Linked DNA regions of Homo sapiens: region 1 is linked to region 2. The links come from fine-mapping of genetic effects on gene expression. A gene starts in region 2. The other region holds a variant in brackets. All regions are shown on one strand. Distances are between the middles of the regions.

Region 1 (15,677 bases), 35 kb after region 2:
GTCCACATAAAAATTTGCAAGTGCATGTTTATAGCAGCTTTATTCATAACCATCCAAACTAGAAGCAGCCAAAATGTCATGCAATAGGTGAATGGACAAACTATGGTATATACATACATTGAAATATTATACAGCAAAAAAAGAGAAATTAGCTATTATGCCATAAAAAGACATGGATGAACCCTAAATGCATATTTGTAAATTAAAGAAACTAGTCTGAGAAGGCTATAAATATATGATATTGTATAAAAGGCAAAACTATAGAGACAGTAAACAAATAAGTAGTTACCAGAGGATTGCAAGGCGATGAAGAGAGTGGAATAAAGCACAGGGAATTGTTTAGCACCCAAAATCTAATAGACATGATACTGTAATTGTGGATACATGACACTATTCTTTTTTTTCAAAATCCAGTGAATGTTATAGCACAAGAAATTCGTCTCAAATAATGCAAATTTGAAGACATCATTTATGAGGTCAGGGGAATCACAGGATGGACTGCAGAATGTAACAAGACCATCTAACTATATTAAAAAATGTATGAAACAATCTCACTGAAGAAGGTGGGGGAATAAGTAGCAGACCTAAGTAACTTTGGCAGTGAATGGAGTTTGTAAGACTAAAGACAAAAGGAACTGCACAGAAGCATTATGCTTTAGTTGATAAAGTTCTTTACCATGGTCATATGGGTTAACAATTGTAATATTTTCACACATGTATATCAGAATTGGACAATTCAGTAAATAGATGACATATGATGAGAGTCAGGTTTGTCACTGTTGGAGGGGGAGTTTACAGTTAAGCAAGGGGAGGAGACTAGAATAATGAGTTAGATGGGCAACACTATGAACTTATTTTTAGCTTAATAGAAATACTGATTGTTACATATAGAAATATTTAGATATCTGCAAGGGTTATTATGCACACATCTATCCTTCCTTTGTCAGCCAAGCTGGGGAAGAAGAAACAACACCCCACAGCAATGAGCAAACGTAGTGTCCAGCTCTTGCTTTCTAGTATCATTCTCCAGTGAAGCAACCAGGGTTCCTTGGAGTTATTCTCTTGCTGAGTCAAGACAGACAGGAAAACACAAGATGAGACTGTAGCACCTGCCAGAAAAAAAAAAGTGCCAGAAAGAAGAAAAAAACAAAAAAAGGAAAGCACATTATAATATAGTCATGCCAAAGGGACACAATACTCAAGAAAAACAGTTGCCAATGCCAAAGTTGGAACAATTTGTACAAATTAATAAAAATAGTATTGAATTATAATCCAAAGTGTAAATTAAATATCAATGAGTTTATAATGATATAAATAAAAGGTTATATAAACAAATAAGATAGGACTAAAGACAAATCTTCCTTGCACACAAATTCCACATAATTTACACAGCTATTCTACCCTGAGGTGGGTAGCAAAACTTCTCATTTTTTGTGTGTGAGTTGAGCATAGTAACTTCCTTCTGAAGACTAAAGTGTAGAAAGGAGGGGAAAGTGTACTTTACAGTGGAGAAATCTTCACTTCAGCCCAGAGATCAAGGTAAAAATCAATAGGAAACAGTCATATTGATAGTATATGCCCTCACATATGATATAATATGATGAATATGTTGCTTTACCTCTACACTATTCCTACAAAAGAAGTGTACACTCTTCTTTGGCTGCCTTGCACTATTTTTAAAATCATCACATATAAATAATATAACTCCAATATTATTTTGTTATATAAAAATATGACATAATGCCATCATGACAGCTTGCATTTTTTATCGTGATAATAGTAAGATCACAGTTTCAGTCACACTTTGCAACAATTAGTTTTATTATTTTCCTGAGCAATTCTCTATTGCATAAAGAGAGCATTAAGAAAGAAGCATGTTATAACCTTCTTTCCATCTGTGCTTAGAAAAATGAATTTTGTGCATTAATATTTTGTGAATTAATATTGAGGGTTTAATAACATGCTAATTATTATTGCATTATTATCTTCACTTTAGCATTTGTGAATAAATATTATTAAATGTTTTAGTTTTGGATATGTAACATAATGAGTGGCTGGGAGCAGTGGCTCAAGCCTGTAATCCCAGCAATTTGGGAGTCCAAGGCGGGGGGATCACTTGATGCCAGGAGTTTGAGACCAGCCTGGCCAACATGGTGAGACCCCGTCTCTAGTAAAAATACCAAAAAAAAAAAAAATTAGTCGAGTGTAGTGGTGCACACCTACAATCCCAGCTACTCAGGAGGCTGAGGCAGGAGAATTGCTTGAACCCGGGAAGAAGAAGTTGCAATGAGCTGAGATTGCACCACTGCACTACAGCCCTGGTGACAGGGCAAGACTTCGTCAAAAAAGAAAGAAAGAAAGGAAGAAAGAAAGGAAGGAAGGAAGGAAGGAAGGAAGGAAGGAAGGAAGGAAGGAAGGAAAGAAAGAAAGGAAGAAAGGAAGAAAGAAAGAGAAAGAGAGAGAGAGAGAGGGAGGGCGGGAGGGAGGGAGGGAAAGATAATGACTATGAAGAGAAAATCTGAGAAAAGATAAAATGCTCAAAATATATCCAAATACAATGTCTGAAGAATGCAAAGACTCTCTTCCAGCTTACTCTTGGTCCCAGAAGAGCAGCAAGAATACATAAAGGATAACATGGCTTAAAGCACGAGTCGCACAACCAAGTGGTAATCAGGAAAATGTCATACATCAAGAAGCTAAAAGCAGATGGCAAAGGTGAGCAGTTATTAAGCAATGACTGTTACACCTGCTGGAGAATACTATAGCTTATTCAAGAATAGTTATTTGATGCATTCTGCTTAAAGTGTTAAAAGGACGTCTATTTCCTTCCTGCAAAACAGTGTCATTTTAAACACACAAGTGCTGTTGGAGACATGTCACCACTTTTAAAGACAAAGCCTAGACTAGGGTGAGGCAAGTGAGGCAACTTGCATACAAAAGTGAAGAAAGTGCTTGCTCTCAGAATCAGGGTCTTCTTAAATTTGCACCTTACACACCTCCTTTTCCTCTCTCTATGCCTGGTCGGATTTAAAGAGTCTTCCTCTTTGTGCTAGATATTATCTGACAACTTAAGAGAAAAAATATTACATGGTTCAATATTTCTAAGCCAGTTTGTGGTCATTCTTGTGAATGTTTTGTACAATATTCTACTAAATGCTTCTGAAGTGCTATAAAAGGAAGAAAATATATGTTCCTTCACAGAGTGTACTTTTAGAGGAACAAAGCATACATATGAAACATAAAGCATCTAGGAAGAAACATCTAAATATTGTATAAAACATGCAGAACAATAGCAAATTTACATCTGTATACAGGAAAACTAAAACTTCAAACAACAGAGCTTGAGAACAGAGACTCAGTGAGTAAATGGGGATTTGAAATTTGTCTATCAGCTTATAATTGTGTGTATTTTATTTATAAATCAGCTTATGAATGAGTATGGAACTTCAAGTGAATTTCTTGTTTTAGGAAAGCTTCAGGTTCATTTGCTTTTTAAAAATTAATGTATGTACAGCTTTGATTTGCTATAGGTAGAGTTGAATTGTTTAAGTATGATTCCATGAGAAACTGCTATACTACACAAAGAGTGAAGAAATAGTCTATTAGCTTCACTTGAGACTGATATTCCTTTATTTCCTATGCAGGACCTTGAATACAAGACATTTTTGGACATTGCATACACCTACTAAGAATTTCAGTTACAACCATTTTACAGTTCTTAGGCTGTGATTTTTTAAAAAATAAATTACTGTTAAAATTCCAACAGAATATTAAGAACATTAATTGACATATTTTCAGCAGAATGGTTGTAGAAAATCAAGTAAAATATTAAACAATGTGCAAGTAAACACTAGAAAGAACAGAAATATGTGTGTGTGTGTATATATATATATACATTGAGAGAGAGAGAGAGAGATAAGACAGAAAGAGAGAGAATGACAATCAGAGAGACAGACAGAGACAGAGACTGCATTTAATTTAAATACAAGTTTCCTTTCCATTCACATCAGAAACCTCTTGTGTTGTCGCCTCTTTGGGGGCCCAGGTTTCCAAATGTTCCTTCCTTTTGATCCTGCCCTTTATTCATAGATAACTGCAAGCAGTATTTATTCTTTAGAGATTTGGAATTGAGCATACTTCTGGGTTTGTTATCTCTGCTGAAATCTCCCTCATTAGTATCTTCCTGTTCTTTCAATGCCAAATTTTCAATTAAGTATTAATCCTAATTTGGAACTGTATTATGCTTCTTATTGCAAGGCTTTGCTAGACTACTTTACTTACCAAAGTAACCCTTTGAAGTAAGGTTGCCAGATAAAATACAGAACAGCCAGTTATATTTGATTTCCAGATAAATTTGCCCTCCTTCTGCCCCAAATATTATAGGGGACAAACTTGTACTAAAAATTAAATAATTTACCTGAAACTCAAATTAAACCAAGTATTTTGTTTTGCTTTTCCATGGATTTTTAATTATTTTAAATTTTTGACTAAATCAGACAACTTCACTTCAAGGTAAAGTAAAGGAGCATTTACGCAGCACTTATATACTAGTCCCACTTTCACAAATCTTCTATTTAATCCTTAGAGCAGCCCTATGATGTACAAATACCCATCCCCATTTAACAAATGAAAAAATAATCTCAGAGATTCCTAAGAGGCCATAAAGCTAATGGCTGGCCCATTTAAAATCCAGCTTCTGCTCTGGTATGAAACACAATCCATCTTTCCCTACACAATGCTGTCTCTCAGCCTTTTCTGTTTCTTATTGCAGAATAGAAAACAGGTGAGAAGAAAGGTTAGAGCTGCTTATACCACGTATTTTAAAGTATTTTTTTTTTGCTTAAAACTTTAAATTATGAAAATTTTCAAGCATTCATGACAGAAGTGTTTGAACAAGAGCAACTTCATCTTGAATAGGGGCTGGGTAAAATGAGGCTGAGACCTACTGGGCTTCATCCCCAGGAGGTTAGGCTTTCTAAGTCTGGATGAGATAAGAGGTTGGCATAAGATATAGGTCATAAAGACCTTGCTGATTAAATAGACCATGGTAAAGAAGTCATCCAAAACCCAGGAATACCAAGATGGTGACAAAAGTGACCTTTGGTCATCCTCACTGCTCATTATACACTAATTATAATGCATTAGCATCCTAAAACACACTTCCACCAGTGCCACGACAGTTAAGAAATTCCATGGCAACATCAGGAAGTTATCATATATGGTCTAAAAAGGGGTGGAACCCTCACTTCCAGGAATTGCCCACCCCTATCCCAGAAAACTCATGAATAGTCCACCCTTTGTTTGGCATATAATCAAAAAGTAACAAGTATAAGCAGCTGAGTGGCCCATGCTGCTGCTCTGCCTATTAAATAGCCATTTTTTATTCCTTTACTTCTATAATAAACTTGCTTTCACTTTTACTCTATGGACTTGCCTCAAAGTCTTTCTTGCGCAAGATCCAATTACTCTCTCTTGGTATGTGGATCGGGACCCTTTACCAGTAACATTCACATAGGTAAAGAGAATAGTGTAGAGCATTCCCATGTATTCATCACCTGGTCTCAACAATTATCAACATGTTTTGTCAATTTTGTTTTATGTGTCCACCATCCTTCTATTTTTTTTTTCTAGAGTACTTTAAAGCAAGTCCAATACATCATGTTATTTAAACTCTTACCCTATCATTTTCCCAAACTTGGTTCATAATGAAATAGTTGACTAAACTACCATCCATATTCACCTTATACTAACAACTTCTTTACTCCCTGTTACGTCATTTTCCCTTCTGTCAGCCTAATGACTTCATTAATTTGGAATTTGTTGTTTTCTGAAACCAGTACACCGTAGCAGTTTCAACTATCTAAACTACTACAAAGACTTTACTATAGGTTGCTTTACTTTTTAAAATTATAATAAAATTAAACATATAAAACCACACTGTACTAATTCGTTGTCTCATTATTATAAAGGACTGCCTGAGACTGGGTAATGTATAAAGGAAAGAGGTTTAATTGACTCACATTTCCACAGGGCTGATGAGGCCTTGGGAAATTTACAATCATAGTGAAAGGGGAAGCAAACACATCTTTCTTCACATGTTGGCCGAGAAAAAGGGGGAAAAGCCCCTTATAAAACCATCAGACCTCATGAGAGCTCACTCACTGTCATGAGAAGAGCAGCATAAGGGTAACCACCCCCATGATTCAAGTACCTCCCCACCAGGACCCTCCCATGACACGTGGGGATTATGAGAACTACAATTCAAGATGAGATTTGTGTGTGGACATAGCCAAACCATATCATTCAGACCTTGCCCCTCCCCCAATCTCATGTACTCACATTTCAAAACACAACCATGCCTTTT[C/G]AACAGTCTCCCAAAGTCTTCACTCATTCCAGCATTAACCCAAAAGTCCTAGTCCAAAGTGTCATCTGAGACAGGGCAAATCCCTTCCACCTGTGAGCCTGTAAAATCAAAAGCAAGTTAATTATTTCCTAGATACAGTTGGGGGTACAGGCATAGAGTAAATACACCTATTTCAAATGAGAGAAATTGGCTAAAACAAAGAGGTTAAAGGCCCCATGCAAGTCCGAAATCCAATAGGGCCGTCATTAAACCTTAAAGTTCCATAATGATCTCCTTTGACTCCATGTCTTACATTCAAGTCATGCTGATGCAAGAGGTGGGCTCCCATGGCCTTGGGCAGCTCTGCCCCTGTGGCTTTGCAGGGTACAACGCCCCCCCCCCCTCACCCGCCAGCTTCCTTCATGGGCTGGCATTGAGTGTGTGCACCGGGTGCACGGTGCAAGCTGTTGGTGGATATACCATTCTGGGGTCTGGAGGATGGTGGCTCTCTTCTCACAGCTCCACTAGGCAGTGCCCCAGTGGGGACTCTGAGTGGGGGATCGAACCCACATTTCCCTTCTGCACTGCCATAGCAGAGGCTCTCCACAAGGGCATCAACCCTGAAGCAGACTTTTGCCTGGATATCCAGGCATTTCCATACATCCTCTGAAATCTAGGAAGAGGTTCCCAAACCTCAATTCTTGGCTTCTGTGCACCCACAGGCCCAACACCATGTGGATGCTGCCAAGACTTGGGTCTTGCACCCTCTAAAGCCATGGCCTGAGCTGCACCTTGGCCCCTTTTAGCCATAGCTGGAATGCAGGGCACCAAGTCCCAAGACTGCACAAAGCAGCAAGGCCCTGGCCCAGCTTATGAAACCATTTTTTTCCTCCTAGGCCTCTGACCCTGTGATGGGAGGGGCTGCCATGAAGACCTCTGACATGCCCTAGAGACATTTTTCTCATTTTCTTGGGGGTCAACATTTGGCTGCTCATTACTTATGCAAATTTCTGCAGCCAGCTTGAGTTTCTTCTCAGAAAATGGGTTTTTCTTTTCTATCACATTGTCAGGCTGCCTTTTAAACATGAGTTCCAATTCCAGACAATATCTTTGTGAATAAATAAAACTGAATGCTTTTAGTAGCACACAAATCACATTTTGTATGCTTTGCTGCTTAGAAATTCCTTCCTCCAGATACCCTAAATCATTCCTATTAAGTTCAAAGTTTCACAAATCTCTAGGGCAGTGGCAAATTGCCACCAGTGTATTTCCTATAAGAGTCATCTTTATTCCAGTTCCCAACAAGTTCCTCATCTCCATCTGAGACCACCTCAGCCTGGACTTAATTGTCCATATCACCGTCAGCATTTTGGTCAAACTATTCAATAAGTCTTTAGGAAGTTCCAAACTTTCCCACATCTCCCTGTCTTCTTCTGAGTCCTCCAAACTGTTCCAACCTCTGCCTGTTACCCAGTTCCAAAGTCACTTTCGCATTTTTTGGAATCTTTACTGCAGCGCCTCACTACCTGGTACCAATTTACTGTGTTAGTCCATTGTCATGCTGCTATAAAGGACTGCCTGAGATTGAGTAATTTATAAAGGAAAGAGGTCTAATTGACTCACTGTTGGCCATGTCTGGGGAGGCTTCAGGAAACTTACAATCATGGCAAAAGGGGAAGTAAACACATCCTTTCTCACATGATGGCAGGAAGGAGAAATGCCAAGAAAAAGGGAGAAAAGCCCCTTATAAAACAATTGGATCTCATGAGAACTCACTCACTATCATGAGAACAACAGCATGGGGGCAGGATTCAATTACCTCCCCATTGGGTCCCTCCCACGACACGTGGGGATTATGGGAACTACAACTCAAGATGAGGTTTGTGTGGGGACACAACCAAACCATATCACGCACAAACTATAACATAGTTACTGAATAATTGTTTTTCCCAAATTATGACAAGACAACTTATATAGAAGTTGGTTTTGGGCTACCTCTGTTCTTGCAAAAGTTATTGAACAATCTAAGTTTGAAAACAGGTTTCCACCTTTCAAAAAGTGATGAAGTGGATTCCTTACCTTTTCTCTTTACAGAAATAAACTCATCAGAAAAATAAATGGTATATAAAATTTTGGCCTTAAATATAATGTGGGAGAATTTTACCAGCAACAGAAAGTAGAAGTGTGGCCTGGAAAAATTGTCTCCACCGTTAGTTTAGTGATACTAGAGAATCATTAGACTGATGGTAAAGAGGAATGACGTTAAGCATTGTATAACACTTATAGTATATAACCTGCCACTGCAATTAATCAGATAAAAAAGATGAGGGAGGAGTAAAATGTATATTTTGCAAAATGCTTAGACATTCTTTAATAAATAAAGTTAATGCTATCATTAGTGGCAGCTCTAAGCAAAACTTTTATCTTTTTTTCCTATGAATAAGCACTCTTTGGGGAGATGAATATTGCTGCAGTCATATTGTGCTTTCAGTTAATGAGATATGGGTTCTATTTGTTAGAGTTTTATGGTAATGAAGCTTATAATTTACTGACAAACTGGCTTGCTTTCAAAAATTCTCTTATTGCACTGAATTTTTTTTTCATCGGAAACATTGATGTGCTAATTTGTGTGTTTATGGCAGCAGATGTGCACCTTCACTAAAAGGCTGCCAGAGTGAGGGAAAGGACAGGACAGCAAAGAAAGAAGGGGAAAGGTGTTCAGAGTTTTCAATGGGTAATAAACTATAGACATAAATGAAAAAATGGCACAGTTTGAACATTCATGAACTCATCAAGTATGTTATGTGAAGTATCAAATATTTATCACTAAAATTTGGTTGAGTTACAGATATGCTGAGTGTCAAATCCCTTTATCCAGTGCGAAAACTGAAGGACAAAATTTTTCATTTAAAATTTAATAGCTGTGACAGAAAGTCGTTAAATTAAAAGTAGGTGAAAACCACTTTTCTCCCCTCAAAGAGAAGATTCTTTTTTCTAAATAAGAAACATTGTAATTATTAACAATGACTTTCCTGCACAGACCTTCTGAGTTCTGTTTTTCTCCAGCTCTAAAATTTTATGGCTCATAGGAGGAAAAACATTGTGCCCACGTTTCAATACTAACGTTGTTAATGCCGGCTAAGTAAGGTGTGTAACAAAAATCATGGTATCTTGATATTTCCTTTCATAGGAAATTGAAATATTCTAATCACAGGTCTATAATCTATAATGGAGGACATAAAACCTTGATGATTTTGCAGACACTCTCCTTAAACACAGAACAAAACAGATCTCTATGCAACACATGTAATGAGAAAAAAAGGGAGGGTAAGCTGTTTATAGTGCTTTTCATCTTACCAGGGTTTAAGAAACAAGTAGGAGACAGACGGAAAACATGGATTCACTCATGGCTAGACACTGTAGATTGAGAGGCAGTTGTTGATAATACCAGTTAGTTGAAAAGTAGTTTCCAGAAGGTGCATCATAGTCACTTGAGGAAATAAGACACAGACATCTCAGAAAAGAGCACTCTGTTCGACCTTTATGCTTTGGGGTAAATGTGCAACCATATACTAACCTCTTAATTTCAGCAAATTCCTAGACCTTTTAAATCAATAGAAAACAGTTACTAAACAGTTCCATAACATTTATGGTAGGCATTATCTCTACCCTCAAACACCTTGCAATCTAACTGGAAAGAATATATATTTGTATAATAAGCGCACATAAGGAGGGCAATAAATAAGAATATAATTAAGGCAAAGTAGGGCATAAATAAGAATATGCAATAAATAAGAATATAATTTAGGCAAACTAGGGCATGTGAAAACACAGTTTTTATTTTTCTTGTTCTTCAGTATCAGTTTCTTCTTATTAAGACTCCATTCAGGCCCGGTGCTGTGGCTCACACCTGTAATCCCAACACTATGGGAGGCCGAGGTGGGTGGATCAATTGCGATCAGGAGTTCAAGACAAGACTGGCCAACATGGCAAAACCCCGTCCCTACAAAAATGCAAAAAAAAAGTTTAGCTGGGTGGGGTGGCAGGCTCCTGTAACCCCAGCTACTTGGGAGGATGAGGCAGGAGAATTGCTTGAAACTGGGGGGTGGAGGTTGCAGTGAGCTGAAATCATGCCACTGCACTCCACTCCAGCCTGTGTGACAGAGTGAGACTCTGTGTCAAATAAAAAAGAAAAAAAAGAAAAAAAGACTGCATTCAAACACCTATTAATTGCATAACCTTTTTTGAGATTCTATTTCATACGGTGTCTGGCAGAGAATAGGCACTCGACATATGTTTATTAAGTGAATAGCATTATCTAGATGCTGGAGATATTCAAAAGAGAAGACACCAATCCAACACTTACAGCACATTGGTTCTGTGTAAAAATAAATAAACAAATGAATAAATAAATAAATAAATGGGAGAAAATGTTTCTGCCCTCACAAACTCTAGACAGATAAAACTTTTTGAATGTCATGTCTCTTTGCTGCTAGGTTGTGAAAGTGTTTTCTTCCTCCTCCTTTCACTTCTTCTTTTCTCCCTTTTCTTCCTAAAATGTTTATCTTACCAACTTGAGCAGGAGTAGAGACTTTCTCTATCCCCATTTCTCCCTTTAAAGATTATTGATTGCAAGAGAAAAACAAATCGTTACATGGACTCATTAATTTAATGTTGTGTTCACTTTCTTAACTACATATTATGGACTTAACATATGGAGTTCTAAAGTAAAAAATAGAAATCTGCACTTAGATGTAATGGGTAAAATAAAAATCTCGATTTTTTGTTATATATCATGCTGATTTAGGGATTAATGGCAAATAATAATTATGTTACTAACAATATTATACTAATAACAGTTAACATTTATGGAAACCCTATTACATGAAAGGTGTTCTTCAATGTGATTTTTTTTAATTTCCATATGTTTTTGGAGAAAAGGTGGTGTTTGGTTACAAGAGCAAGTTCTTTAGTGGTGATTTGTGAGATTTTGGTGCACCCATAACCCAAGCAGTATACGCTGCACCTAATTTGTAGTCTTTAATCCCTCACACCCGTCCGATAGTTTTCCCCAAGTCCGCAAACTCCATGGTATCATTCTTATGCCTTTGCATTCTCATAGCTTAGCTCCCACATTTGAGTAAGAACATACCATACTTGGTTTTCCTTTCTCGAGTTACTTCACTTAGAATAATGGTATCCAATTCCGTCTAGGTTGCTGCAAATGTCATTATTTTGTTCCTTATTGTGGCTGAATAGTATTTAAATATATATGTATATATTTAATTATATATAATATATGTATATATTATATTATATATAATATAAGTATATATTATATATAAGTATATATTATATGATATATAATATAAGTGTATATAAAATATAATCTATACATATAATCTATACATATATGTATACAGGTATTTATAAAATATAATATATACATATATGTATATATGTATTTATATTATATGTATAATATATAATAGTATTTAATGGTATATATACATACATATGAATAGTTTTTAATGGTATATATACATATATAATATATAATATATTCTATATACATATATAATATATAATATATTCTATATACATATATAATATTTAATATATTCTATATACATATATAATATATAATATATTCTATATACATATATAATATTTAATATATTCTATATACATATATAATATTTAATATATTCTATATACATATATAATATTTAATATATTCTATATACATATATAATATTTAATATATTCTATATACATATATAATATTTACTGTATTCTATATACATATATAATATATATCATATATTCTGTAGACATATATATCATATATTCTGTAAACATATATATCATATATTCTGTAGACATATATAATATATCATATATTCTGTAGACATATATAATATATCATATATATATAATATATACATATATAATATATGAATATATTATATATAGTATATATAATATATAATATATTCATATATTATATATGGTATATATACATATATAATATATTCATATATTATATATGTATATATACATATATAATATATTCATATATTATATATAGTATATATACATATATAATATATTCATATATTATATATAATATATATACATATACAACATATTCTATATAGTATATAAATATATTATATATACATATATAATATATTCTATATAATTATATATAATATAGATAATATATACATATATAAGATATATAATATATATAATATATATAATATATACATATGTTATATATATAATATATATACATGTATTACATATAATGTATGTAATATATATAATATATATAATATATAATATATACCTATATAATATATAACATATTATATAGTATAATATTACAAATATTATATAGACATATATAATATATGTAATATATTATATAGACATATATAATATATGTAATATATTATATAGACATATATAATATATGTAATATATTATGTAGACATATATAATATGTGTAATATATTATGTAGACATATATAATATGTGTAATATATTATGTAGACATATATAATATGTGTAATATATTGTGTAGACATATATAATATATGTAATATATTTGTAGACATATATAATATATGTAATATATTTGTAGACATATATAATATATGTAATATATTATATAGACATATCTAATATATGTAATATATTATATAGACATATATAATATATGTAATATATTATATAGACATATATATGTAATATATTATATAGACATATATATGTAATATATTATATAGACATATATATGTAATATATAGACATATATATGTAATATATTATATAGACATATATATGTAATATATTATATAGACATATATAATATATGTAATATATTACTATATATTATATAGACACATATAATATGTAGTAATATATTACTATATATTATATTACATATATAATATATAGGAATATATTACTACATATTATATTACATATAATATGTAGTAATATATTACATATATAATATATGTAATACAATATATATTATATTATATATATGTAATATAGTATGTATTATAATATAATACATATTGTATGTACATATATAATATAAAATTCTAATATATAATATATTATAATTATATTATATAATATATTATAATTATGTAATTATAATTAATTATATAATATATTATATAATTATATAATATATATAATATATTACATAATTATATAATATATATAATATTTATAATATCTATAATATTATATAATATATATAATATATTATATATATTATATATATTATATAATATATATTATATATAACATAATTTAATATATAATATATATAATATATTATATGTAATATATATTACATAATTATATTATAATATATAATATATAATTATAATATATAATATATTATATATTTATATATATATAAATATAATTATATAATATATTATGTATTATAATATAATATGTATTATAATACATAATATATATTCTATATACATATAGAATATATATAATATATTAGAATATATAATATATAATATAGAATACATATATTATATATTGTAATATAATATATAATGTAAAATATATGTATTCTATATTATATATAATATATTTGATATATATACACATAGGTGTATGTGTATATATACCATTAAATACTATTCAGCCACAATGAGGAACAAAATAATGACATTTGCAGCAACCTAGATGGAATTGGATACCATTATTCTAAGTGAAGTAACTCAAGAATGGAAAACCAAGTATGGTATATTCTTACTCAAATGTGGAAGCTAAGGTATGAGGATGCAAAGGCATAAGAATGATACAATGGAGTTTGCGGACTTGGGGAACAGGATCGGAGAGGTGTGAGGGATTAAAGACTACAAATTTGGTGCAGTGTATACTGCTTGGGTTATGGGTGCACCAAAATCTCACAAATCACCACTAAAGAACTTGCTCATGTAACGAAACACCACCTGTTCTCCAAAAACATATGAAAATTAAAAAATCACATTGAACAACACCTTTCATGTAATAGGTTTTCCATAAATGTCAACTGTTATTAGTATAATATTATCATTAGTAACATAATTATTATTTATATGATATATAATATGTATATCACAATTTCTTTATCCACTCAATGATTGATGAGCATTTGGGCTGGTTCCATATTTTCACAATTGCAAATTGTGCTGCTGTAAGCATGAGTGTACAAGTATCTTTTTTTGTAAATTGACTTCTTTTCCTCTGGGTAGATATCCAGTAATGGGATTGCTGGATCAAATGGTAGTTGTACTTTTAGTTCTTTAAGGAATCTCCACATTGTTCTCTATAGTGGTTTTACTAGTTTACATTCCCACCAGCAGTGTAAAAGTGTTTCCTTTTCACCTCATCCCCGCCAACATCTATTATTTTTTGATTTTTTTATTATGTCCATTCTTGCAGGAGTAAGGTCGAATCACATTGTGGTTTTGCTTTGCATATCCTTGATCATTAGTGATGTTGAGCATTCTTTCATATATTTGTTGGCAATTTGTATATCTTCTTTTGAGAATTGTCTGTTCCTGTCCTTAGCCCAGTTTTTGATGAGCTTGTTTCCTTTTCTTGCTAATTTGTTTGAGTTCCTTGTAGATTCTGGATTTTAGTCCATTATTGGATGTATAGATTGTGAACATTTTCTCTCACTCTGTGGGTTTTCTGTTTACTCCACTGATTGTTTCTTTTGATGTACAGAAACTTTTAGTTTAATTAAGTCACACCTATTTATTATTTTTTTTGTTGCATTTGTTTTTGGGTACTTGGATATGAATTCTTTGCCTAAACCTTTGTCTAGAAGGGTTTTTTCAATGTTATCTTCTAGAATTTTTATGGTTTCAGGTCTTAGATTTAAGTCTTTGATCCATCTTGTGTTGATTTTTGTATAAGGTGAGAAACGAGGATCCAGTTTTATTCTTCTACATGTGGCTTGCCAATTATCCCATCACCATTTGTTGAATACAGTATTCTTTCTCTACTTTATGTTTTTGTTTGCTTTGACAAAGATCAGTTGGCCCTAAGTATTTTGCTTTATTTCTGGGTTCTCTATTCTGTTCCATTGGTCTATGTGCCTATTGTTATACCAGTACCATGCTGTTTTGGTGACTATGGCCTTATAGTATAGTTTGAAGTCAGGTAATGTGATGCCTCCACATTTGTTCTTTTTGCTTAGCCGTAGTTTGGCTATACAGGCTTGTTTTTGGTTCCACAAGAATTTTAGGATTGTCTTTTTTAGTTCTGTGAAGAACGATGACAGTATTTTGATGGA
Region 2 (15,677 bases):
TATTATAGAATGCATTGCTAATTAGCTGTCAAGTATCAATGAGGATTAACACAATGCACACAATTTTTTTACCTAAAGTAGGTATAAATATTCCCCTGGTGAACATAATAGACTACTTGGTTTCTGGATGTAGTGTGCTTAAATAATGTCAGTAATTCCACCTAAGAAATTATAATTTTGCGGGGAGGAATAAAAGACAAAATTAGAAAATCATCAGTGTACCTCACTAGGGAAAAATTATTAAAGTTTAAATTTAAAAAATGAAGATCTGGTATATTTGAGAACTTTAAGGAAAAAATGTTCTTGTTTGAATCCAATTCATTGCATACCCACATCACTAATGAAGTTCACCTTGATGATGATGTGTTTGTTTGTCTAGGCCAGTTTGGTGGATTAATGAAACCTAAACCAGAAAGTGTTTCCAGTTTGGCATAGGGAATGTGAGATTGGCTGCTGTCTAAGGAGAGATATTTATAGGAAGGAATGGAGCAGTGGAGATGGATTCACTTTTAGGCAGACTAGATAGTATTTCTCTAATCACCTCATCCCCACCCCCTCAAATGTGTGGCTTCTGCACATAGATTTTTCTGTCATGAAACCCTTAATTCATAACACTATTTTTTTCAGACCACCTCACCCTGTTTTCTCTGGATTATGTCCTCCCACATCCAAATTTATTATTATTCCCATAGTATTTCCAATTTGCAGCTGCTTCCTGTTCTAAAGAATTTCATCTCTTCTCAACTGACTGTGTCCCTACCCCTCTCTATTTTTAATCCTCAGTCTTTCTCCATCTGTTCTTCTCTTTGTCACATGTGCAAACACCATCCATCAATTCCCCCATACTCCCTGTGTTGCTTTGCCTCTGAGTCACAGCTTTTATAATCGTGATGTTTGATAAATCAGTTATAATCTTCCCAGCAAATTTTATGATCAAACATGATTAGATGGATAAAGTCCTTTGTTGCAGGATTGATGAATTTATGGGCTTTATTTATATTGTTTTATTTTACATGAGGAACTTTCAGAATTGAGGAAAAATATAGCTTACCTATATAAAATAATACAGCATACCCTTTCATTCCCAAAAAGAAATAGGCAAGTCACTTTCATAAAAATAAGCTTAACTGAGAGTTTTTTTATTTTTTGAGAAATGCAAACACTGGAAAGTTTTTCAGAATGACAGTAAAGTCCTCAAAGGTGGGTGAGAAAGTGCATTTATTTAATCATTGTTTAGCAAGAGTAGCACCTTCTCAAGCACTTAAGAAAAAGATTGCATGATGAAGCACAATTTCTCTAACTTCTCAAATCGTGACTTGATTTGATAAATGCTATACATTATTATTATAAAAAACAAGTAATATCACCAAAGAGAAATAGATGAGTTATTTTACTTAATTCAGTCTTATCACTTTATCTTTCTATGGGAATATCACTCAATCCACCTCATTATAAAGAAGACATTCAAGGTTTTGTGGTAGCTATGAAATTAGCCTATGACCTGCCATTATGTTTTTTACCTCTATAAAATGTATTTTGGCTCTGGCTTTGGCCCATTTGTCTTGAAATAGGGTCATTTTACATAGCCCTTTATTTAGGGACTTTAAAAATTATCTCTCAGTAACAATGAATAATGCAAAGCCATTGTTATAGTACTATGTAATAGTTATGGAATGATTTTCTTCTCTCCCGTTATATATGTGCTACCCAGTTATTTAGTGACGACCTCACAATGAGCCTCTTGTTTCATGGTGGAGAAAGATAGCACTGTGATTTCAACCTTAAGACTCCAGTGAAAATAAATCATTTGTTCCTGTTTAGTGTTTTTGTTGTAATAATTCTCAGAAGAATGAGGCATAATGTTAATGGCATTCTAGTTTATGAAAGACTATAAACTTTAAATATTTCATAACTTTGAACTTCAACCTTTTCAGTATTCTGCACTTTCATTGGCTGTATGTGTACCTTTTGCACTCATGCTACAGAAGTTGTAAACAGTAAAAAATAGAAATGGCTAATGAATCATACTGTAGACATGTAAAAGGTCAGTGTTACAGAGTTTATTATTATCTTCTAGAGAATATATAGGACATTAAAATTCTGATGCTACAGTCTTGTGACAAGGAATATAATGAGAACTATAAATAATAAACAGTATAAAATGAATCTTCTTGTGACAATGATTATAGCTTCAAATAGGAAATACTTAACCCATTGTCATTATTACCAGAAGAAAGGACTGCTATGCTGATGTTCATCTTTCCCTTTTGTGGCTAGAATCTATTTAAGCCACAGAGAATAAAAATAAATAATATATATTCAAGAGTGTTGAATACATTGCTTTATGAGCGCTTTCCAAAATGAATATCATGTTATGGTTTAGGATTAATATGGATCACATTCTACCATAATAATTTTAAAATAACAACTTTAATGTGACTTGTTTGTTTAAAAACAGATGTTTTGCTGTCATTCAGGACACTGTCATGTGTGATAACAAAGTAATACCGTATTTCCATGCAGAAGCCATGTATAAACAAAAATATTTGCATTTAACAGCAGGATTCCAGGCTTATTTGATACTTGCATTCATTGAAATTGGTTATATAGGCCCAGAACTCTTCATAAACTAAAGAAAACATATTTACCCTGCACCTCAGAGGTATAAATACAACTTTAGTGTCTCAATTTGCTAATAGGTATTCATTATTGCTTACTATTGGTGTTCAGTGTCTAGACATGACATAGAAAAAAAACACACACACAGGGTGAGGAAAGAGAAAAGAGAGCTGAAAAGGAGCCAATTGTATTGATGTCACTTGCTTGTTCTAGTCAATTTGTCATGGATTTCTTTAATTAATTGTAAGTTAAGTTTTTCTGAGCATAGATCTGACCTACTTACTTCCTGTGAGAAGGAAAACGAATCCTGTCCTGCCGTCACTTACCACACCTTTTGGCAACTCTCTAGAGACGTAGCACTACCATTGACATGATGGCTTGATTTCTTCTCAAAATATCTTTCAACATCTGGCTCAAAAGATATTTTTGATGACTATAAGCATGCCCAATTTCTCTGTTCATAAGGATTAAAATTCAACAGATATTTAGTACACTAGGACTAAGCTACCTTATCACGAGCAGCTGTACAAAGATGTGCTGAATACTTGTGTTCAATCCACCAGAGTGAATTGATGGAATCATGCCAGTTTCAGGACATACATGGGGTGAGAGGAATTCTATCAGTCACTATCCAGATATTCCTGCTAAACCTTAGAATACCACCTGTACATTTAGAATGACTTGTTATGAAACAAATAAAAGAAACTTAATCAATCTATGTGTCCTCACCAGAGTAGCAAATGACTCTTTCTTGGTGCTAAAAATTCTTTATTGTTTTTTGTCTCTGGCAGGCTTTTTCAGCCTCTGTCTAACTGGTTATATCACCTACACTATCAGCACTGAATATTAAAAATTCTTATTTGAAGAAACATCCTCTTTAGACGTTTCTAGTTGATTGGTTGTTCATGTACAATGGCACTATATTTTAGGTCATTTTACTATATAGTGAATTGTTATACAGCTGTCAAAATGTACATCCTTTCACACTGCATGCTGCATCCTTATTTTTGTTACTTGAAATTTTAAAAGCTCCCATCTGAACATTTTGATAATCTCTCAGAACCATCATTATAATGGGGTGCTGTAGCAAATTATGAGGAATACAAACACAGCAGTATCTGAGAAAAACATTTCCATGTGAGTAAAGTATTTTCATTTGCACTTCAATGTTCTGAGCATATAGTGATATGGTTTGGCTGTGTTCTCACCCAAATCTCATCTTGAACAGCAGTTCCCATAATCCCCCTGTGTCTGTCTTGGGAGAGATCCACGGGGAGGTAATTGAATCATGGGGGCAGTTATCTTTATGCTGTTCTCGTGATAATGAGTGAGTTCTCACAGGATCTGTCAGTTTTATAAGTGCCTCCCCGACCTTCACTCTGCACTTTTCTCTCTGGTTGCCATGTAAAGAAGTACGTGTTTGCTTCCCTTTCTGCCCTAATTGTAATTTTCCTGAGGCCTCCCCAGCCATGTGGAATTGTAAGTCAATTAGACCTCTTTCCTTTATAAATTGCCCAGTCTTGAGTATGTCTTTATTAGCAGTGTGGGAATGGATCTAATACATATAGTAAGCTCTTTGTTGAGACAAAGGGTGAAAGGATCAGTCCTGTTCCACCTTGATTTTGGACTCTTATTGAGCCAGAGCTATATATACTATGTAATTAGCAACAAGGAAAAGTTGAAACACAAACACCAGTTCGTGTTGAAGCAGTGGTCTAAGAATACTCTTCCATCTTCCCTCCTCCTTCTTTCCTGACTTTTCAACTTGGTTCTGCCTATGACTGCTAAATGTTAGCTCTATTACTCTCACCTCAATCTCATCTGGCTTCTTTTACTGTTTGTTCATTTTTCTCTATTATCTGAACTTTAGGCTGCCTTTATGGAACTTTTCTTAATTCAGCCATCCAGCTCTAAGCACCCCTTATAGCCTTGGGTAGATAGAGATTCCCCAATCTAGCCTTGGCCTAGGAAGAACCTAACCACCCTTCCCCAGTCACACTGCAAGACAACTCAATAGAAAATAGTAACAGTCATTTAACTAAGCCATTTAGAAAACACTGACAGGTTTGTTTCTGCTTTAATTACCTTAAAGATAGAACACAAAATCCAAGGCTTTGGTTCCTGGGGTGTCATTTTGAAAAATAATTTACAGCATTTCAGACTTCACAATCTTTATTTAATCTCCAGTATGTAGGGCACATTTGTGCTAAACAGAGTGTGGTAGGGTACAAGGTTTCAAATAGGGCACATTAGTGCTAAACAGAGTGTGGGAGGGTACGTGGTTTCAAGTAGGGCACATTAGTGCTAAACAGAGTGTGGGAGGGTACAAGGTTTCAAATATAAAAGCATAAATGAATAACTTTCACCTCTTTCCACAACCCTTTTTTCATCCTTCCTTTTTGCCATCAGCTGTGCTCTCTGTTGGGTGATGCAGGAGCTGGCATTCCCCCAGAATGGAAATGGGCAAAATAAGAAGGCAGTGGAGGACCAAATATCGGAGGAGGAGCAAAAGGAAGAGGCATAGTGAGAAAGGGATTGAAAATCGGAGGTCGAGGAGGGATGAAACAATGAACAGTAGAGCAAGAAGGTAAACCTGGAGTACTGGAAGACAACGGGATAGGCCTTGGCCAATTATGCATGGGGTGGCATGGGCCCCTGAGTGGGAAAGAAACATGAGCCAGCTTTCCTCTGCAGGCTATTCGTGTATTTCCGGGCGGCACCTCCATTACTATCCCTGATCTAAGGGTGGGAATATGTGAAGGGCCTCTCACTTGTGGGCCCCTGGGTGGAAAGAACCCTTTACCTTGTGGCAAAGCTACATGCAACCTTGCGTTATTACTGCCTCTCTCAGTGCCCCCATTGTTGACCTTTGTGCCCCCTACTATCAGTGCAGGAGGGCCGCCAGAGACTTCCCAGGACACATTAATAGCATCCTGTCCCTCCTGCCTCCAGCCTGCCAGTGCATCAGAGCTGTTTACTTCTGCTGTTGCTAGGGACTCTTCTGCAACAGCAGGTGGTGGCCCGTAGGGGTGTCTATGAGCTCTCAAGCTATGAAGAGGAATGCAGGATCCTGTTCTTTCAGAGGGCCACTCCAGTTGCTTGCTATCCAGATCAGTCAGCACATTGACGGAAGGTCTCAGCGGTACTTGAGGTTGACCCCAGGGCTCTGCGTCATCCTCTGGCTTGGAACTCAGACATTGCAGGGGCATGTCGTGGTGCAGCTCCTGGTTCCCATTTTTGTCCACAGATACTACCAAGGGTGAAGGGGCGTGCCCTCCAAGGCTTGCAAAAACAGAAATCAAACAGCTAATAAAAATGGAAATGCACTGACCAGAAAATAGCTACAATATGTAATTGACTGAGCTCACTGAAATATACCAGGGAAAAAAGGAGTGCCCTCTCCCCTATATGTAGCCAAATACTTGCTCAGCGCTCTGGCCCCTTCCCAGGTGGCTTCTTTAGTACTAGGCTACATGATTACCCTTCATGACTACTCAGTGGCCTATTTCATTCCTCATTTCCCCACCTCCACAAGGCAGCAAGGAAGCTTAGAAGATGCACATAACTTAATAGTAAGCATATAATAGAAAATACCAGCTTTTTCAATTCTCTCTAGGATCTATGATTCACTAATCCTGGCATTCAGATTCTGGCAAGATTGTTCTGGTATGTCTTCCGAAGTAAAATATCTTTTTCTTCACAGAAGTCAAAGAAAAGTTAGTTATGTTAACAAACACACAAGTTTCTCTTCTTGAGGTATCATTCAACACTCACACCAAATTTTGTTAAAAATTCTTTCATTCAACCACCACCACACCCTAGAGTAAGAATTTCCTCATGTTTAAACCCCACTGTTTAGACTAGGGATTTGTAAATTTTCTTTCAAAATTACACTTCAAAGTTGCCACTCTTAAATCCGGTATTCTTAGTAACTAAATTTATGTCCTTCAAGTTTTTGTCTGTAATTTCCTCCCACATCTCCTCCAACCCATTCATCCCTGTCCCAGTTACACAATAAAGCAATTCAAACTGACTTTGCCTTCAAAATTAAACAGTTGTACTCGGTTTTGTACTTACACGTTTTCAATACAAGCCATGAAGAAATTTGATCAGAATAGCTTTCCTGAGGTGGTGGAGATAACCCACTGAACAGGCCAGCTAGGTCTGGAGAAATGACTCCTGCTTCTGCTTTAGAGGCTTGGCAACTAGAATGAAGCCAGGGACCAACTGCTTCTTTCTAGATTTGGAGTTCTCTTTCTGGGGTTACCAGTTGCTAAGGAAGGGAGGGAGAAAAGGAGTGGGGAGGGGGGTGGGTGGGGATGAATCTGTGACACTCCTTTGAACTTAAATGTGGGACTGGTGTTTGCACAGTAGTAGATGGATGGTAAAGGCATTCACTACATTAATTCTGATGCAGGGCAGTTGGAAAGACAAATCATTTCAAGAAGGATTTAGAAGAATCATGGAAGCATGATATTTTTTAAAGAGTTATTTATGAAGTTTTAGTTTCTACAAGGTAGTTGTCAAGTCTCCTCAAATTTGGAAACACATTGAGCAGAGTATTGTGCCTAATATTGTAACTTAAACTTCCAGTTTGGGGATGCATATTATTAACTTGGTGGAGAACAGAGGTTTGGGGGCTAAATTGCTTTTCTATCTGTGAAGATGAAACAAGAACTCCTCTAAGAATCATTGTGACATTATTTTTTAGCCCCTCACGTTGCAGTTATATCCTTCATCTTGTCTGTTAGTTTATAAGCTCTCTCTCTCTCTCTCTGTCTCTGTCTATGTCTGTGTGCACGCGCGTGTGTGTGTGTGTGTGTGTACGTGTGTGTATTTCCTGTAATAGAGCTCTGGAAGTTTCTCTCAAGTTGGGAGGGTCAGAATAAATGGCATAACAGGTATCATAAATTTATAAATATTAGCTTAGGTTTGGCCATGCAACATTTTTGCATAGGGAACTTTCTGTTTGTCCAGCCTAAATTTCATTTTAAGCAAGTTTACTTTCCCAGCTTTCTTTTCTGCCATTGATCTACAGATTAATTGCTCCGAAATTACAACAACCATTCCATCATCCAAGACAATTACTGTTGCTCTAGGACAAAGCCATAAACTTGGCAAACCTGCCTAAATTTACATAAAATTTGTGCTGTGCAGGCTAGACCTGGGAGATTGTGTCTTCCTTATTTTCAATATTAGTATATGTTGCTACAGTTCAACAGTAATGTATATTTCTTTTCTCTTAAGGAAAGATAACAGACTCAAATACCATGTGCTTCAATTTTTAGATATATGGTGTCTGTGTATCTGTGTGTGTGTGAGAGAGACAGAATAATGCATAAGTACAAAGTACTAATGTAAAGGAATGGTCACTACTGCAAATCAACACAACTCATATAGAAGTAACCTTTGGGGTCTGCAAGTCCACATCTTCCTGCCAGAGTGTGTTGTCTCCATCTATACAAGAAAGTGGCATGTTTCCAACATATTTTCCAGAAGAATCTGTTCACTTGCCTAGCATGGTTCACTATTAAGTAATCTCTTGATTCCCCAGATTCTGTTTCTATTCTTGCTTCAGTTTATTACGCACCTTGTCCTTATGTAAAAATAATAGTATTATTAGCAGTATTATTGTTGTGGGGTGTTAAAGCTCTTTTACTTCTTGTCGTATCAGAGAGGAAATTGCAACTTGGGTTAATGCCTGCTAATAGTTGGTGAATCACATTTAGATAAATAGTTTCAGTATAATAGGTTGCATATTTTTTTCCTGATAATAGCAACAAAGCCTGAGGAATGCCTTTTGTTCTTATCAAATTACTATAATAATAAACAATTTTACCTAGAAATACCTGTTTGGTAAGATATCATCTTAGTTGGATTACATAACAGTATGGTGTAATATAGGAACCAAATTGCTGGGAACAATGACAATGACCATGGCACCAAGAATTTTCCAAAGCCATGAAGTGTATAATTTATGGATATTACCTCATATTTTGTTTGTAACTTGTTTTCCTTTGTGCAAATAGTCCATATTTATTGAATGTCTACTGCGTGCATTCACTATTGTGTTAAGTGTTGATTTTACCAAAAAAGTTAAATATGCAATCCATATTGACTTCAGGGAATGTTCTAATTTTCTTGGGAGGCAAAATAACATCTATAAAATTATTGAAGAATGGCATAAAAAATAGCCACAGACCATTAGCTGCATGGTATAAGCTAAGACTGCAATGGAAATTCAGAAGAAGGAACTATAATTGTGGGTTAAAGTAGTTGTGACACAGTTTATGTGGGATTAAAACTTCTGCTGTGTTTTGAAAAATTGATATACATGGGCAGAAAAGGAGATGTCATGCTATGGGAAGAACAGTTATAGAAGTAGAAATAAAGAAAAAAATGGCATTTTGTAGTTCATATTTTAAATCAAAACTAGGGCTCATATTTGGCAGAAATAGAAATATAAAGTACCAATTAGACCCCTTAGAGATAGCGATCAACCAGATAATTCATGAAGTTTTACCCATAAATTTTACCCATAAATAAATATTTGAATACATTCAAATTTCAAAGTTAAATACAGCTATCTCAAAACCTACCTTTTCGCAAAAAGCTATCAGGGTAACTCAATCATCCACTGAGCATTGAAAATTCAGTAATAAAGTATATGCCTTTTTCTTTACTTCACTTAAATAACAGTTTTGGGGAGAGAAACATGGGTAATGAAGGTTGAAGTTTCACCAAAAAGTAGCCTAGTTAGCAAGGCAGCTGTTTGAGTCCATTTTCTGCTGCTATAACATAATACTTGAGACTGGGTAATCTATAAACAAAAGAAATGTATTTATCACAGTTTTGGAGGATGGAAAGTCCAATATCAAGGAACTGACTTCTGGCAAGAGCCTTCTTGCTGTGGCATCCCATGACAAAAGGTGGAAGCACAAGGGAGTGAGAGACAGCAAGGAAGAGAGGGCCAAACTCACTTTCATACCAACCCACTCTAGCAATACCAAACTCACTACTGCCTTATCAACATTAGTCTATTCATGAGAGTGGAGACCTCATGGTCTAATTAATCTTAATGGTCTCACCTCTTAATCTGTCACAATGGCAATTAAATTTCAACATGAGTTTTGAAGGGGGCCTAAGAAGTAGCTAAGGTATAAATGCCTTTCATTACCCATAGCCTCTTTATTCATGACACAGTTCCAGATATCATTTATTTACCTCTCAAAAAATTTTGATGACAGTATTGAAATGCTAAGTAAGGTCTGTAGAAAGATATATTTACTTTTGCACAGCAATTATGACTTTAATATAAATATGATTTCTGGGAATGGTGGCATGCACATGTAATCCCAGCTACTCAGGAGGCTGAGGCAGGAGGATGGATTGAGCCCAGTGGTTGGAGACCAGCCTGGGAAATATAATGAAACCCCATCTGAAACTTTTAAAAAAGTGTGGTTGATCTACCAAAATTGTGTTGCTGTGGGGTTTTTTTTAAAGAAATTTTGCAGATGTGTAAATGAAGGCAAAGTATCATTTAAAATACACCCTTTCTCTTTTGCTTCAAATAAGAATTCAGGATATAAAGACATAAAGATGATTTTTCTCTGTTTCCATCTAGCTTATAAGGAAATTGTCATGTTGACCTCTGGGGAGACAGTCATCAGAAAATCCTACCCATTTGCTCACTTTCCAAATGTAATTTGGCTATGCATGTGAAAAACTCTCTAAGTTTATGATGTCCAAAAAGTGCTTCTGGAAGATATACCAGGTTTTTGAGGAGTCTGTAGTCATTTATTCCATGTATTAAAGCATGAGAATCGTGAAAGCATGATACTTTCCCAAAATGGGCCAGGCAGCATTATTCTATTACACAGCTATAGGCAGTAGTCCTGTCTTCTCTGCCACCAGCTGTCCTGCAAACTCTGTGTGGTAATTGATGAGAACAAACAGGTGAGAGTGTGGCTATATCACCACCAGTATTGGCAAAAGCAACTAACAACATGTGCCTCACTGCTGGATCTAGCTGTATGAAATTCAATAGACTATTATTGCTTTTATAGAGTTTTTTGTTTCAGATTTAAATATTTACATATTTGTTTTAAGATGGGTAACATGGCAATTACTTCCAAACAGGTTATCTCTTTGTACAAATCAGAAGCTATCAGAAGTTTCCTCAACATATATCACTCATTTTTCTTGCTCTCATGGGGGTCGGAACCAGAAATTAAGTAGCACCAGGGCAAGTGAGATGAGAATAAAAAAAGGAAGAAGTAAAAGAAAATCTATTTTTTTTTACCACTTACTGTACACCAGACATTTGATATACATTGTCTCATTTAATGGTCACAGCAAACTTTTAAGGCAGCTATTATTATTATACTCATTTTATAAATGAGGAAAAAGAGAGTCAGAGAAAATAAGTAGAAGTTTCCCATGGTCCCAAAGCTAGTAAATGGCAAACAATATTCAGATACAGCCAATTTGACACCAAAGCCAATATTTCATTCATTTAATCACGTGGCCTCTAAATTATAGTTCTAGGTCAATCACAAAAGTGGATCAGATAAAAACGTGTGTACCAAATCTGAGTTTAGGTTTTTTGTAATGCATGGACCCATTGACCCTCATCCAGAGGTAGTTCTGCAATGAAGAAATCATCCAGGCTATAATGCTCACATCCCAGAAAGTCTGCCTCTGCAGGGATGCAGCAAGTGATTGAAGTGTTAGTTAATAATGTAGCAAGGTGGTGATGACTGAAAACACTGTCTTGGAGCAATTGGGGTGGGTGACAGATAATAGGAATTGGTTATAGGACAGCATCAAGTGACCATTACTGAGGAGCTAATGGCAATATGAGCCCAGCATTATCAATATTAAGATTTAATTAATGTTGAGCTCTTGAGCTGCACATATAGAAGATATAGGGTTCCTCATATTATTTCCATGGTAGTGTGTGTGTGTGTGTGTGTGTGTGTGTGTGTGTGTGTGTGTGGTGAAATGGGGGCCGAGCTTGAGTCATCCAAGTGAGGTATTAATGATAACCCTAGAGAATACCCTTCTGAATTAGATAAATATATAAATTAAAACATAAAAGCAATATGTTTATGTTCATATAGGGCATATAATATAAATTAAGATGCAAACATGGACTAATAAAATTAGAACAGTTAATGAAAACAGGTTAAAGTTTACAGAAAGCATCAGGCCATAAGTTTATAATGGTGTAATACATGTATTTGCCATGTCAGATTTAATTGCTGGGCCCAGGAGTTGAGGGCATGCTTAATTTCTTGAGTACTTGGTTTGAAAAACAAAATATATTTTAGATTAATTTCATCTTGCTTATAAACAAGACACTGGAAATTCATGTTGGAAACCTTTTATCAGTTTATTAAAAATGAATCTGTTTTTCAAAATTGTTATGAGCTTTGACTCTGGAATCATAAGGGCACAAATCTGGGTTTAATCTCAGCTTTACCACTTATCAACTGTGTTATCTTGGATAGGTTTCTTAACTTCTCTAAACCTCATTCTCCTTACCTGTAAAATGGGGTTAGAGAGAGAGTTATGTTAAGTAGTGTATGAATAATGACTGTCACATACTAGGTGGCTTAAATATAATAATTTCCTTGTACATATTAGACTCAGTGTTTTTATGTAAAATAGAGATGATAATGCCTTTCCTATTTCAGAACTGTTGAGAAAATTAAATATAGTTATTTGAAATTGTTCTGCAAACTGTAAGTCACTTCACACGTTAGGTTCATATAACCATAGGTGATATTTCTAGAGCAAGAAGACTTCTTGGCACAATTTAATTAGCATTGTGTAGGTGGCCACCTATCCCTCTTACATATAAGGCCTTTTTTCTTTTCCTAAATCATTAAGGTGGTGAGGATTAACCACACTATTAAAAAAACCCCATGGTGTATAATGCTTTAAACTTTTCAATTGGCACTACATAAAATCACCCATTGTTATATTTAATGTAGTAGCTGTGTTCGAATAAAGAGGGCATTTTTGTATTTGACCACATATTTAATTGGGCTTTAGAAACTTGTGTTTCACAACAGGAATCACTGAAAGCGTGTGATGATTAAAGAGGAAGGCCTGGGGAAAAAAGAATGTTGCATGGTTTCCTGATAGTGAAGATTTGATTGATTGATTCTCCAAATGATTTGTTACTTTAGAGGGAAAAAAAATTTTCCCACCCAGAAGCCTTCCCTACATCCCTCTCAAGTGGTCAAATAAATAGCTTGTTGGAGGAAGTGTAACACTTTTATAGACTGACTATAATTCAATGTGCAGGAAAATTTGCTGATGAAACTCAAAATTAAAATAATAATAAAGCCTATCCAGAGAGACCATTCTTAATTCTTGCCTGAATTATGCCGTATGCCCATGCTGCTGACATAAGTGTTTGTTTAAAGGTCCTGGATAGTTTGCCTTTATTTTTGAACTATTTAAGATCTTCTATCTCTAGTTCTTAGAGTGATGAATTGATATGTGTGTTTACTTAGTGTGGGAGTTCAACAGAATAAAAGATCAGATTGATGAGGGCAAGGCAATAAGAGAGGGACTCTTAGAAAATTTCTACAGGAAATTTCTAAAGGAATATCATTCAGGTAGTGAAGTTTCAACAGCCCTATAATAAGATCTGAGCCAAACTGATGAACCTTTATAGAGGTACTGGGTCTTTTGGCACATGGTCAAATGAGAGCAAATAAAGGTATGGAGCATTGCACCACTTCAGGGTGAACTGAACACTTGGTTATTTCTGTGGTTTCTAGGTATTATTGAGCAACAGACTGACCTGGGTATCTTATTAAAATAGCAGATTCCTTGGCTCCATCCCTTAGATTCTGATTCAATTGATCTGTACTGGGGCCCAGTTATCTTTAGTTTATTTACTGATTCTAATGAGGTGATCTTCTGACCACATTAGAGAAATACTGACAAGGTGATGTAGCCTTGTAGTCTAGGCTTGAGGGGTTAGGCCCGGAATTCTAGTGGGCACTATTTTTTCATTAGCTCTAAACCACTGACTAGATAGAGGGACAATAGAACATAAAATCTTTTTGACTGCATGCCACACTCCAGTTCCATTTTGTTCCACAGACCTCCAAACATCATGTTTAGTTTTTTAAAAGATAGGTAACATTTAGTTCATTAAGAGTAGTAGTTCTAAAATTTGGTTTAGGGAAAAATGCCACCCTCCCCATACCCTTTCAAAGGGCCCACAGAGTCAAAATATTTTCATTATTATATGATTATATTATTTCACTTATTCAGTCTAATTCTCTCCTGAGGGTGCAGTGGGAGTTTTTCTCAGGCTACATGATATGTGGTGTCATTGCTCTAATGATTAATGGAATACGTGCTTATATATTCCTGTGTTTTAAAATTTTCCCAGATTTAATTTCTAATATGGTGTTGGGCTCAGAAAACAATAACCCCAAATTAAGTCCTCAGAAGTAGCTTCAGAAGAAAAAGATTTTCTCTGATCTTCCCCTGTTCTCCTGTCTCTCAGTCCTAGTCTTCTCCAAGGCTAGCCATACAAACTAGGGTCCCTCTTCAAAGCAGGAAGAAGAATTAGTGAGATTCAAGACAGGCTATTTGAAAATACAAAGTTAGAAGAGAAAAAGAAAAAGAATCATGACTGCAAGATCTAGTAAATTTAAAACCTAGTAACTTAAAACCGCATATTTAAGTTACTGGCCATAAAGAGTTAGAGAGAGAGAGGGATGGAAAGTTTATTCAAAGGAATAATAACAGAACTTTGCAAACCTAGAGAAAGAGATAAATAATCAAATACAAAAAGGATATAGAACACCAAGCAGATTTAGCCCAAAGAAGACTACCTGAAGGAATTTAAAAATCAAATGCCAAAAGGTTAAAGATAAAGAAAGGATTCTAAAAGCAGCAAGAGAAAAGAACAAATATCATATGATGGGGCTGCAATATATTTGGCAGCAGACATTGCAGTAGAAACCTTACAAGTCAGGAGAAAGTGGCATGACATATTTAAGGAATTAAAAAAGATATTCTATGAAAATGAAAAATAAGAAAGAGCAGGAGGAGCTATACTTAAATTAGGCAAAATATATTTTGTCTGAAAAACTATAGAGACAAAGAAGGTCATTATATAGTGATATAGGGTCAATTCTGCAAGAGAATGTAACACCTGTAAATATAATGCACCCATCACTGGAGTACCCTGGTATGTAAAGTGAATATATAGGACCAAATGGACCTAATAGATATTTGACAGAACATTTCCTTCAACGAGTGTGGAATATACATTCTCCTAAGCACATGGATGATTCTCAAAAGTAGACCATATGTTAGGCCACAATACATTTTAAGAAATAAAATAATACGAAGCATCTTCTCTTAACAACATTAACTAAAATCAGAAATCCATAGCAACAGGAATTTTGGAAACTATAGTAACACATGGAAATTAAAAAATATGCTCTTGAATGATCAGTGGTCAATGAAAAGATTAAGAGGTAAATTTAAAAATTTCTTGAAACAAATTATGATACAAACACAACATTCTGAAAGCTATGAGATACAGTGAAGGCAGTACTAATATGGTAGTTTATAGCCAAAAGTGTCTACATCAAAAAAGAAGAAAAGCTGAAATACATAACCTAATCATGCATCTTAAATAAGTAGGAAAAGAAGAACAAATTGAACCCAAAATTAGTAGAAGACAATAAATACTAAAGTAAGTGTGAAAATAAATAAAATTGAAATGAAGAAAATAATACAAAAGACCAATAAAACAAAAAGCTGGTATTTTGAAAAGGTAAACAAAATATACAAAACTTTAGCCAGACTAAGAAGACAAAATGCCCAAATAACTAAAATAGAGATGAAAAGGGAGACATTACAACCAGTACTGCAGAAATCCAAAGGATCATTAGTACCTGCTATGAGCAACTATATGCCAATGAATTGGAAAATATAGAATAAATGAATACATTCCTAGGGACATATAGCTTACCAAGATTGAACCATGAATAAATTGAAAACATAAACATAAA

Direction of the effects. Positions count from the first base shown, and alleles are read on the strand shown. Sizes are in standard deviations (SD) of each study's normalised expression.
For the expression in liver of the gene that starts at base 6,831 in region 2, allele G in region 1 goes with a higher level than allele C (small effect, 0.39 SD a copy in GTEx).

Evidence for each region. PIP is the estimated chance that this variant, and not a neighbour inherited with it, causes the effect. A credible set is the group of variants that fine-mapping cannot tell apart.
Region 1: its variant is the best candidate, but not a certain one, in a credible set for the expression of PRR32 in liver (GTEx, PIP 0.88).

Annotation. Positions count from the first base shown.
Region 1 is chrX:126,775,513-126,791,189 of GRCh38, reverse strand. No RefSeq gene overlaps it. Among named protein-coding and RNA genes, the nearest start is that of PRR32, 36 kb to the left of the region's middle. The variant C/G (reference allele first, on the strand shown) is at 6,365.
Region 2 is chrX:126,810,883-126,826,559 of GRCh38, reverse strand. PRR32 (proline rich 32) reads right to left here and starts at 6,831. Exons shown (of 2, transcript NM_001122716.2): 1 at 6,697-6,831; 2 at 4,774-5,901. The coding sequence starts at 6,716. The coding sequence ends at 5,025.